Regions from separate parts of the Homo sapiens genome. Here region 2 is linked to region 1. Evidence: fine-mapped expression QTL. Tissue or cell type: whole blood. Region 1 holds a variant in brackets; the other region holds the start of a gene. All regions are shown on one strand. Distances are between the middles of the regions.

Region 1 (5,892 bases):
TTTTGTATTTTTTAGTAAAGACGGGGTTTCACCATGTTAGCCAGGATGGTCTCCATCTCCTGACCTCGTGATCCACCCGCCACGGCCTCCCAAAGTGCTGGGATTACAGGCGTGAGCCACCACGCCCGGCCCCACACTCTTAAGTATGGGGGCACGTTGATAACCCACAAAGGTACATGTTCGTTTCTCTCTTTAGGAAGTTTCAGTGTGCATCCTCAGCCACCTACTTGGTGGCTACAGATGAGTGCCACAGCAGAAGACAGCCAGAACAAAACTGGTTTCTACCTACTCCAGAAGGTGTTCTCCATCTCCCCATCTCAGTGGAGGCCAGCACCATGCCTTGCGCAGCCCCAAGCCTGGGCACTACCTTCACCTCCTTCTCCCTTCCTCCCACGGCAAATCCTGACACTTCTGCCTTCAAGACAGCTATGGAATCTGCCCCCTTCTTCTTCTCCACCACCACTCAAAGTCACCACCATCTCTAAACTACTTTGGCCCGTCACTGGTCTCCTGGTCCCATTCCTGCCCCCCAGCCACCCTCCCTGCTTTTTTTTTTTGAGAGGGAGTCTTGCTCTTGTCACCCAGCCTGGAGTGCAATGGCGTGGTCTCTGCTCACCGCAACCTCCGCCTCATGGGTTCAAGCAATTCTCCTGCGTCAGCCTCCCAAGTAGCTGGGATTACAGATGTGCACCACCATGCCGGGCTAATTTTTGTATTTTTAGTAGAGATGGGGTTTCACCATGTTGGCCAGGCTGGTCTCGAACTCCCGACCTCATGATCTGCCCTCCTCCGCCTCCCAAAGTGCTGGGATTACAGGCGTGAGCCACCATGCCTGGCCTCCGGCCCCCTTAAATCTGTGTGCTACGCATAATTTTCAAAGACAAACCAGACCCAGAACCTCCTGCCTGGCCCTCTGAGGGCTTCCCATTGTTCTTGGAATAATTCCCCAAGAGACTACCAGGCTACATGACCTGGTCCCAGCCTGTCTCTTCATCTGAAACGCCTCTCCCCGCTCATCAGATGCACTGCACTCTTTCTGTTCCTCAAATGAACTAATGCCTTCCTGCTTTTATGAATGACATCATCTTCTTTGCCACCTAAACGTAAAAGCTCAGTGGCACCTTGGTCCCACCCCTACCATACACAGTCTGGCCCGTGGTGTGTGGCCTTCTCCTGACCTCCACAGCCCCCAGCAGGCCTTGCCTCTCCAGCTTGACTTTCCACAGCCTCTTGACTGGGCTGCCTGACTCCAGCTGTGACCTGACCCCAGCCCCAGATGGACTCTTGACCCTAAGTCCAACACCAGCCTTCAGTAGTGTGGCCTCTAACACTTGACTCCTGCACAGACCGACTGAGCCCCACCAGAGACCAACTCCTCCAGAGATCAACCCCACCAGAGACCAACCCCACCAGAGACCAGCCCCACCAGAGACCAAACCCCACCAGAGACCAACCCCACCAGAGACAGACCAACCCCACCAGAGACCAGCCCTACCAGAGACCAACCCCACCAGAGCCCAACCCCACCAGAGACCAACCCCACTAGAGACCAACCCCACCAGAGACCAAACCCCACCAAAGACAGACCAACCGCACTAGAGACAGACCAACCGCACCAGAGACCAGCGCCAGCAGAGCCCAACCCCACCAGAGCCCAACCCCACCAGAGACCAGCCCCGAGACAGACCAACCCCACCAGAGACCAAACCCCACCAGAGACCAACCCCACCAGAGACAGACCAACCCCACCAGAGACAGACCAACCCCACCAGAGACCAACCACACCAGAGACCAGCCCCACCAGAGACCAAACCCCACCAGACGAGACCAACCCCACCAGAGACAGACCAAACCCACCAGAGACAGACCAACCCCACCAGAGACCAGCCCCACCAGAAACCAGCCCCACCAGAGACCAGGACTTAGCCCTTGCCAGGTGTCTCCCAATATCTCTAGGTCCCAGCTTCTAGTCCAGATCAGTGCCTGGCCCATAACCGGCACTTAACAAATATTTGTGGAGTGAATGGATTTTCAAGGGAGGACTCAGTCCCCGTCAGCCGCACTACAGCCATCACAGGTCCAAAGGCTGCACTACTTAGCCACCTGCCAGATGGTATTTGCCCTGGGAGAAGAGTGGGAAGTCCCCGATCTTGAATTGGTTGTAGAACATATGACCCTGGGCAAATTATAACCCTCTCCTGAGCTCCACTGACCCTTCAATAAGACGGTTGTGAGCAGAGCCACTCAGCTCTCTCTCCTGGAAGCCCTGTAACCACAGTCAGGGCCTTTTGTTTCTAAGCATTTCCTTGTCCAGTGTCCCCCCGTGACCTTCACAGCAGCCCATGAGGCACGGGGATGATCTGCCCATCTTGTACAGATCCCCCACGCAGCAGCCCTAGCCACCCTTTCACAGCAAGAGTCAGGAGGCGACTCCTCTGCTCAGAGCCTTCCCACGGCTCCCGGCTTCACTCGGCATAAAGCCAAAGTCCAGTGGGTGGCTGCAGGATCTGGCTGCACACCTCGTGACCTCCCGTCTGTCCCTCCCTCTCCCTTTTCCTCTCAGTCGCT[C/T]CACCCCAGCAATGCTGGCCTCCTTGTGGTTCGTCAACCAGGCCGGACACATTCCCACCATGGGACCTCTGCTCTGGCTGTGATTTCTGCCCGGTTGTGGGCTTGGTGAACTTCCTCCCCTCCTTCAGGCCTATGCTCAAATCTCACCTTGTCAATGAGGCCCATCCCAACACCCTATCAAAGACTACAACCTGCCCCCAACCCTGCATCTCCAGAAACAACTTTCCTTTCCTCCATAGCACTTACCACTCTCTAACAAAAGTATAATTTACTGACCTGTCTCCTGCCCCTGGAATGTAAACTCCATACGGATGGGGATACTTGTCTGCCTTGTTCATCCATGTATCCCAAGCTCCTAGAACAGTGCCTGGCATAAAGTATTCAATAAATAACTGCTGAACAAGTGAGAGAAGGGATGATGTATACTTGCCTGGGGCACATATGGAAGGTATAGGACTAGAGCCCAGGCCTGCTCCCTCCACACAAACAGCCCCCTTTCCAGCCCCTTATTCGTGGCCAAGGTGTACTGGGGTCCAAGAGGCCCCACACAAGATGGGTGGGCTGGGCCATGTGGGCTGGTGGGCAGGGCTGGGTGCACACTGCCTGCCTGCTTCTTGAGGCAGCTCATCAGGGACTCAGGGACCAAGAAGGAGAATGGGGAAGGGGAGGTCTCAGGAGACTCCACCTGCCCGGCTCACCCAGGGTGAACTGGTAGGAACTCACACCTCTGGGGCCTGGAGTGTCCAGACCAAAAGAGGGCAGGCATCTTAGAGAGTCACTCAGACTAGCTCAGGGGTGACACCAGGGATGAGACTCCCGAGATGAGACCCCCAGGAAAGTCCAGAGAGGGAGGATGAGGCTCCCTCTGGCTCTGTTGAGCAGCTCCAAATCTCTGAACATGCACAGGGTCCCAGATTCAGAATGAACAGGTTTATGGAAAAGAACATATTGCTGAACTCTCTGACATGTATTGCACGCTGTCTCTATGCCAGCCATGTGTGTATTACTTCACTCAATCCTTTCGCAACCCAATGAGATGGGTTCTATTAGCATGCCCATTTTACAGGTGAGGAAACTGAGGCACAAAGGATTTAAGTAACTTGCTAAAAATCATACATCTGGTAAGTGGTTTGACTTAGAATTTTTTTCCTATGAAAATAGAAAACTGGCAGAGTCTCATGTCTGTAATCCCAGCACTTTGGGAGGCTGAGGTGGGCGGATCACTTGAGGTCAAGAGTTCAAGACCAGCCTGGCCAACATGGTGAAACTCCATCTCTATGGAAAAAAAAAAATTATCCAGGCATGGTGGTGGGCACCTATAATCCCAGATACTTGGGAGGCTGAGGCAATAGAATCACTTGAACCCGGGAGGCGGAGGTTGCAGTGAGCCAAGATCACGCCACTGCACTCCAGCCTGGGTGACAGAGCAAGACTCCATAAAACAAAACAAAAACAAAACAAAACAAAACAAAAAAACACAAAACTGAAAAACAAAATAGAAAACTTCTCATAAAGTACTGAGACATTTTGATGAGGATTAAAACACACATTATGGGCCAGGCATGGGGGACCATAATGTAATCCCAGCATGTTGGGAGGCTGAGATGGGCAGATCACCTGAGGTCAGGAGTTCAAGACCAGCCTGACCAACATGGAGAAACCCATCTCTACTAAAAATACAAAATTAGCTGGGCGGGGGCGGCGCATGCCTGTAATCCCAGCTACAGGCTGGGAGGCTGAGGCAGGAGAATCGCTTGAACCCAGGAGGCAGAGGTTGCGGCGAGCCGAGATCGCGCCATTGCACTCCAGCCTGGGCAACAAGAGCGAAACTCTCTCTCAAAAAAAAAAAACCACACACACATTATGTGCCTATGCTGTAAAAGAGCCCATTGTCCCCCAGTTGTCAATATAACCACAATGGGAATGAACAATGTCTTCTTGGCAGTGAGGACAATTCCTGTACAAAGGAAACTGAGTTTGTACATAATTGACTTAAAATTTTTTCTAACCATTTATTAAGAAAAAATTTAACATACAGAAAAATTGATCAGATACCCACCACTTAGCTTCAACTACTATCAATTTCACTTCTCTCTCTGTGTTTTATTTTATTATTTTGTTTTATTTTTTTTTTTGGAGACAGGGTCTTCTCCTGTCACCAAGGCTGAATGAAATGCAGTGGCACAACACAGCTCACTGCAGCCTCAATCTCCTGGGCTAAGTGATCCTCCCACCTCAGCCTCCCAAGTAGCTGGGACCACAGGTACATGCCACCATGCCCGGTGAATTTTTTATTTTCATTTTTTCTTTTTTCTTTCTTTTTTTTTTTTTTTTTTTAACATTTTTTGTAGAGATGGGGTCTTTCCATGTTGCCCAGGCTTGTCTTGAACTCCTAGGCTCAAGGGATCCTCCCATCTTAGCCTTCCAAAGGGTTGTAACTACAGATGTGAGCCACTGTGTCTGACCTCTTACTTTTAATTTTATTTATTATTATTTTTTGAGACACGGTCTCACTTTGTCACCCAGGCTGGAGTGCAGTGGCATGATCTTGGCTCACTGCAGCCTTGACTTCCTGGGATCAAGCAATTCTTCTGCCTCAGTTCCCCAAGGAGCTGGGACTACAGGCACGTGCTACCACATCTGGCTTATTTTTTGTAGAGATGATGTTTCACCATGTGGCGCAGGCTGGTCTCAAGCTCCTGAGCTCAAGTGATCTGCCTGCCTTGATCTCCCAAAGTGCTAGAATTACAGCATGAACCACCATGCCTAGGTCTTTATTTTTAGTTTTTTGAAACAGGGTCTCTGTTACCCAGGCTGGAGTGCAGTAGTGTGATCACGGCTCACTGCAGCCTCCATCTCCTGGGCTCAAGCCATCCTCCCATCTCAGCCTCTTGAGTAGCTGGGACTACAGTTGTTTGCCACCAGGCCTAGATAATAAAAAAAAAATTTTGTGGAGATGGAGTCTCACTATGTTGCCCAGGCTGGTCTTGAACTCCTAGGCTCAAGCAATCCTTCTGCCTTGGGCTCCCCATGTGCTGGGATTACAAATGTGAGCCACTGCATCTGGCCTTTATTTCTATTTTTGAGAGAGAGTTTTGCTCTGTCACCCAGGCTGGAGTGCCATGGCATGAACACAGCTCACTGCAACCTCGAACTCCTGGGCTCCAGCGATCCTCCTGCCTCAGCCTCCTGAGTAGCTAGGACTACAGGCACGCACTACTATGCCTGGCTAATTAAAAAAAAAAATTTAAGAGGCAAGGTCTCTCTATATTGCCTAGACTAGTCTTAAACTCCTGGCCTCAAGCTGCCTTCCCAAGCAATCCT
Region 2 (5,397 bases), 23 kb before region 1:
TATCCCAAGTATTTACAATGTCAGACACATCCTAGGTGCTCAGTGAGTGCTCCCTGAGTGAGTGTGTGAGCTCTGAGAGGGGAGGGTAAGTACACCCCTGTGCTGGCAGTGTTGACAGCGCAGGGGTGCGGTGGGGTGGGGAACGCAGACATGGCAACAGTGAGGTGAGGCCCCACGGAAAGTGGCTGTGCTGCCCCTCCAGCCTCAGCCCCCATTCCTCTTCCCTTATTCACAACACCCCAGTACTACTGGCCATTTTTTAATTCCTTGAGTTCTCCAAACACCTACCCACTTCAGGGCCTTTGCATATTCTATTCTCCCTGCCCAGACCATTCTTCACACCTTCACGTAGCTAATTCCTACTCTACTTTCAAGTCTCAGTTCAAATGCCATGATTGTATCTCAGTGCCTGACAAAGAGTAAGCGTCCAATAAAGGTACAGGTTTTTGGCTGGGTGCGGTGGCTCATGCCTGTAATCCTAGCACTTTGGGAGGCCGAGGCTGGTGGATCACCTGAGGTCAGGAGTTCAAGATCAGCCTGGACAACATGGTGAAACCCCGTCTCTACTAAAAATACAAAAAATTAGCCAGGTGTGGTGAAGGGCGCCTGTAATCCCAACTACTTGGGAGGCTGAGGCAGGAGAATTGCTCGAACCCGGGAGGAGGAGGTTGTGGTGAGCTGAGATCGTGCGACTGCACTCCAGCCTGGGCGACAGAGTGAGACTCTGTCTCAAAACACAAAAGATACAGGTTTTCATTACACATTTTAAAAATATATATATTGGGTCTCACTATCGCCCAGGCTGGAGTGCAGTGGTGTGATCACAGCTCACTGCAGCCTTCACCTCCCAGGATCAGGTGATCCTCCCAAGTAGCTGGGATTATAGGTGCAGGTCACCATACCTGGTTAATTTTTCTATTTGTTGTAGAGAAGGTGTTTCACCATGTTGCCCAGACTGGTCTCCAACTCCTGAGCTCAAGTGATCCTCCTGCCTCAGTCTCCCACAGTGTTGGAATTATAGGCGTGAGCCACTGAGCCCTGAAGTTTTCAACATACATTTAAAAATGTACTATTATCGGCCAGGCGCGGTGGCTCACATCTGTAATCTCAGCACTTTGGAAGACCGCGGGGGCTGGATCACCTGAGGTCAGGAGTTCGAAATCAGCCTGGGCCAACATGGTGAAACCCCGTCTCTACTAAAAATACAAAAAAAAAAAAAAAAAACTACCCGGGTGTGGTGGTGTGTGCCTGTAGTCCCAGCTACTAGGGAGGCTGAGGCAGGGGAAGGCAACAGTGAGACTCTGTCTCAAAAAAAAAAAAAAAAATGAATAAAAATAAAAATATGCTATTATCATCCCATTTCACAGATGAGAAAACTGAAGCCCAGAGAGGTTACAATTTTTGCCCAAAGAACCATAGCTAATAACTGCAGAAACAATAAATATGTTGATTAAATAAAGTGGAGTTTGAAAGCAGTGACTTTGATGGTTTCTGGGATAAAGATAGGCTTCCCTGTGGAAAAATTTGTCCTGAGGTGATTGTGTGGGCTGCCTTCAGCCATAAGATCAAGGCTTGCTCCCTCCATGAAGCCACATGAGGTTTGGAGGTCTGTTTAATACAACTCTTAATCAAAGCGGAACTCACTCCACAATACTCCAGTCTCTGCTAACATACTGGGAAGCTCATTAAAACAAAAAAGCCCTCTCCTTCAAAAAATACAGACATTTCACAGAAGAGATGCAAATGGTTAAAACAATCCGTAAAGAGATGTCTGACGTCACTCATCATCGAAGAAATGCAATGCAACGAGAAGGTATGTTGAGGCTGGGTGCATTGGCTCACGCCTATAATGCCAGCCCTTTGGGAGACCGAGGCGGGTGGATCACCTGAGGCAGGAGTTCGAGACCAGCCTGGACAACATGGTGAAACCCCGTCTCTACTAAAAATACAAAAATTAGCCGGGTGTGGTGGCGCACACCTGTAATCCCAGCTACTCGGGAGATGAGGCAGGAGAATCACTTGAACCCAGGAGGCGGAGCTTGCAGTGAGCCAAGATGGCGTCACTGCACTCCAGCCTGGGCAACAAGAGCCAGACTCCGTCTCAAAAAAAAAAAGAAGGTATGTTGAGTTTTTCAGTTTAGCAGAATAAATTTTTTTTTTTTTTGAGACAGGGTCTCGCTGTGTCACCCAGGCTGGAGCCACGGGATATATTTATATATTTAAAATATATTTATAATATTTATATAGTATGTAATACAAAAATACTATATATATTCCATATAAATATTACATATAGTACATAGATAAAATGTATCTACCGCTTGCCTAGCTCTGTGAGGTACACTTCTTGGCCCTTCCCCACAGCTCCGACATATTCTCCCAAGCCTTCAAGGTCCTTCAATATTGTTATTAGAGGCTGGGCACGGTGGCTCACGCCTGTAATCCCAGCACTTTGGGAGGCCGAGGCAGGTGGATCACGAGGTCAGAAAATCCAGACCACCCTAGTCAACACGGTAAAACCCCGTCTCTACTAATACACACACACAAAAAATTTGTCGGGCGTGGTGGCACGCGCCTGTAGTCCCAGCTACTTGGGAGGCTGAGGCAGAATAGCTTGAACCTGGGAGGCAGAGGTTGCGGTCAGCCGAGATTGCGCCACTGCACTCCAGCCTTGGCTACAGAACAAGATTCGGTCGAAATATATACATGTATATTGTTATTAGAGGGCTATGTGGAAGTAGCTATTAAACACGAGGGCTTTGAAGCTAGAATTCCAAACCCTTCTGCAAAGGTGTGCTCTCAGTTAACATCCTTTATCTGTAAGAGGGAAATCAAAATTATTTGATAATGTCTTGAGGAGTAAATGAAGCAATGCATATAAACTGTTTAGCCCAGACCGGTCTGAAAATACATATTGAATAATTTATTCTTATTTTGCCCATTATATAATATGCCAAAGTAAGTGATTACGGTGTGTTTTCCCCGACTATGTTGCCTAGGCTGGCCTCGAACTACTTGGACGAAGCGATCCTCAGCCTCCTGAGTAACTGGGACCACAGGCCGGCGCCACCCTAGCTTTAATTAAGGCCGTTTTGTTGTTGTTATTCCCCTGCTCCACACAAGGGGCGCTGCCGCTCCAAGGCTGCCAGGGCGGGAGTCAGGATGGCGGAAGTCTGTCTAGCCACGACCACCGCCATCATGGAATACAGGCCCACCTCACCCCGCGGGTGTAGCCGCTTCGTACTGTCGCTTAGGCCGACCCGCTCGCAGCGACAACCAGCCCTCTACCTCTTTTCGCTCTCCCTTAAGTAATAAACCGTCTTTCCTTATGACGAGTCTTAAACTCTTTGGGAGGAATAATGCCGGCGTCTTCCGGAACCCGACCTCGCCCCGTGACCTCAGAGGTATACTTCCGGGACACGGAAGTGACCCCCGTCGCTCCGCCCCCTCCCACTCTCTCTTTCCGGTGTGGAGTCTGGAGACGACGTGCAGGTAGGAGGCCCGGGCGCGACAATCGGGGGGCATCCTGCGGCGAGGGGACCCTGTGGGGCTTGGGACGAGAGACGGGGGTCTTTCCGTGGGAACCGAGCTAGGTGCCGGGCAAGAGACGCGCGGCTGGCCCACCTGGATCCTGGCCAACTCGGGATTGAGTTCGTTCCTGGTCTCAGAAGGCCCGTTTTGCTTTCAGGGAGGAGCTTGTGAAGTAAGGGTGAGTGCGGGTCCAGCCTTTTAAGGCCTCGGCCCCGCAATACGGCCACGGCCACGGCCGCGTTTGAGCTGCACAGCGTAGTTGAGGGAACCCGGGACAGACGTGGGCTCCCGCCTCTACCTCGCCAAACTTTTTTCTTGGTGATCGCAGGCCCACGCCTAATCTCGTTTGTTTCCTCGTTTGCAAAATAGGAATAACAATAGCACCGATCCCATGGGTTTGTAGTGATCATTCAAAGAAGGAAAGCAGGGAAAACTCTCGCACTATGTTGGATGCTTCTAAATCTGGGCGATTCTTTCCGTTGCTGAGTCGGGCACGTTGCAAGTTCTGGGCGCTCAGGGCCCAGCACCAATGTTTGCTGTGCGCTTGCCCTGCGTTTATATACTCCTGATGACCACTCTGCTCGTTACTTTAGGGGATGTTAGGAACGGAGAAACTGCAAATTGGCATTTACTGAATGGCCATCATGCCGAAACATACTCATGCTTACGTATTTGAGATATGCTGGAGCCTTTCTATGCTTCTCGAGGCAGAACTTTGGGCTTCTCTCCTGTGGCGCGTTCCTTACAATAGTTAACGCACTGGGTCGTGCTCATTGGTCTGATTTGAAGATAGGAACATTTAACTTCGTACACCCAAGACTTACACTTGAAGTACTTACTGTGGTCACACACTTAACTAAAGTTTATATAGGGAAGGCAGAGGAGAGATCTAGGAACACCTGAGACAGACTAGGGTAGTTATTTGTGGTGTAGAGGCATCTTGGCAGGAGGCAGAGAGTGCTGGGCTGGGAGTCAGGACACGTTGTTTCTATGTTTGGTTTTGCCACTGTCTTTACTGTGACCATAGGCTGAGACACTCTCTATCTTCACCATCTGCAGGATATCGATTAGTGTTAGTGTCTTCTGAAAATGTTAAATTGTTCTGAACACCAGGAGGTTCAGAAGGCCTGGGGCTTTAGGCCGGAAGCAGTCTTATCCTAGCCTTCCACTTTCTCATTCATTCTCACCCGCCTTCCTCCTGTCAGTTTCTCTCTCCCTTAGATCTTGTGACAGTATGATTGCAATTATTATGAAGGTCATAATAGGTTAGAGTTATTTAGTCTCAGGACCCATCAGATTTCTGAGATGGGTCTTTTCCATTAGCCTGCCTTTTGGATATATTTTAGTGCCTTTGATATTTGATGTTGGTGACAAAGATTTAGTTCTAAATAGTTGTGGGAGTCAAATCAGTTGCATTTTTGAACATTTTGAAGGGATCAGGTGGAGCACAGGAAAACAGGAGATGAGAGGCTTGAGGGCTGTGTTGGTAAGGGTCCCTTGAATTCTAAGCTGAGGAGTTCATGCAGGAATCAAGCAGCTCCCTCGCCCCATGAAGGGTGTTAGGAATGGTACCAGTACATGGGTAGCTGTTGGTCTTGGGTTTCTTCTTGCCTTTTGGGGTGCAGCCTTCAGGCATCTGCTGCTAGATCCCTAGGCTTCTATCTTGTAGGTGCTGTGAGCTGAGCTGTTGGTAGTTTCTGGGGAAAGGATACTTCTCATGGTACTTTGCCATGTGGCCACAGTTGATACCCCCCCAAGTGCAAGGAGAAAGAAGTTTTAGTGAGGCAGAAATGAGAGAATACAGTAGAGTATTGGATGGAAGAAGACAGGGACATGAAGCAGGACTAGGGTTTCATTTAATAGCCA

Evidence for each region. PIP is the estimated chance that this variant, and not a neighbour inherited with it, causes the effect.
Region 2: it holds the start of RPS14, and the variant in region 1 is fine-mapped to the expression of RPS14 in whole blood (TOPMed, PIP above 0.99).

The regions. Positions count from the first base shown.
Region 1 is chr5:150,424,937-150,430,828 of GRCh38, reverse strand. No RefSeq gene overlaps it. Among named protein-coding and RNA genes, the nearest start is that of CD74, 15 kb to the right of the region's middle. RefSeq lists enhancers at 932-981, 1,322-1,371, 2,010-2,509, 2,510-3,011. The variant C/T (reference allele first, on the strand shown) is at 2,569.
Region 2 is chr5:150,447,798-150,453,194 of GRCh38, reverse strand. It overlaps RPS14 (ribosomal protein S14), which reads left to right and starts at 3,456. Exons shown (of 5, transcript NM_005617.4): 1 at 3,456-3,492. RefSeq lists enhancers at 3,068-3,387, 3,001-3,939.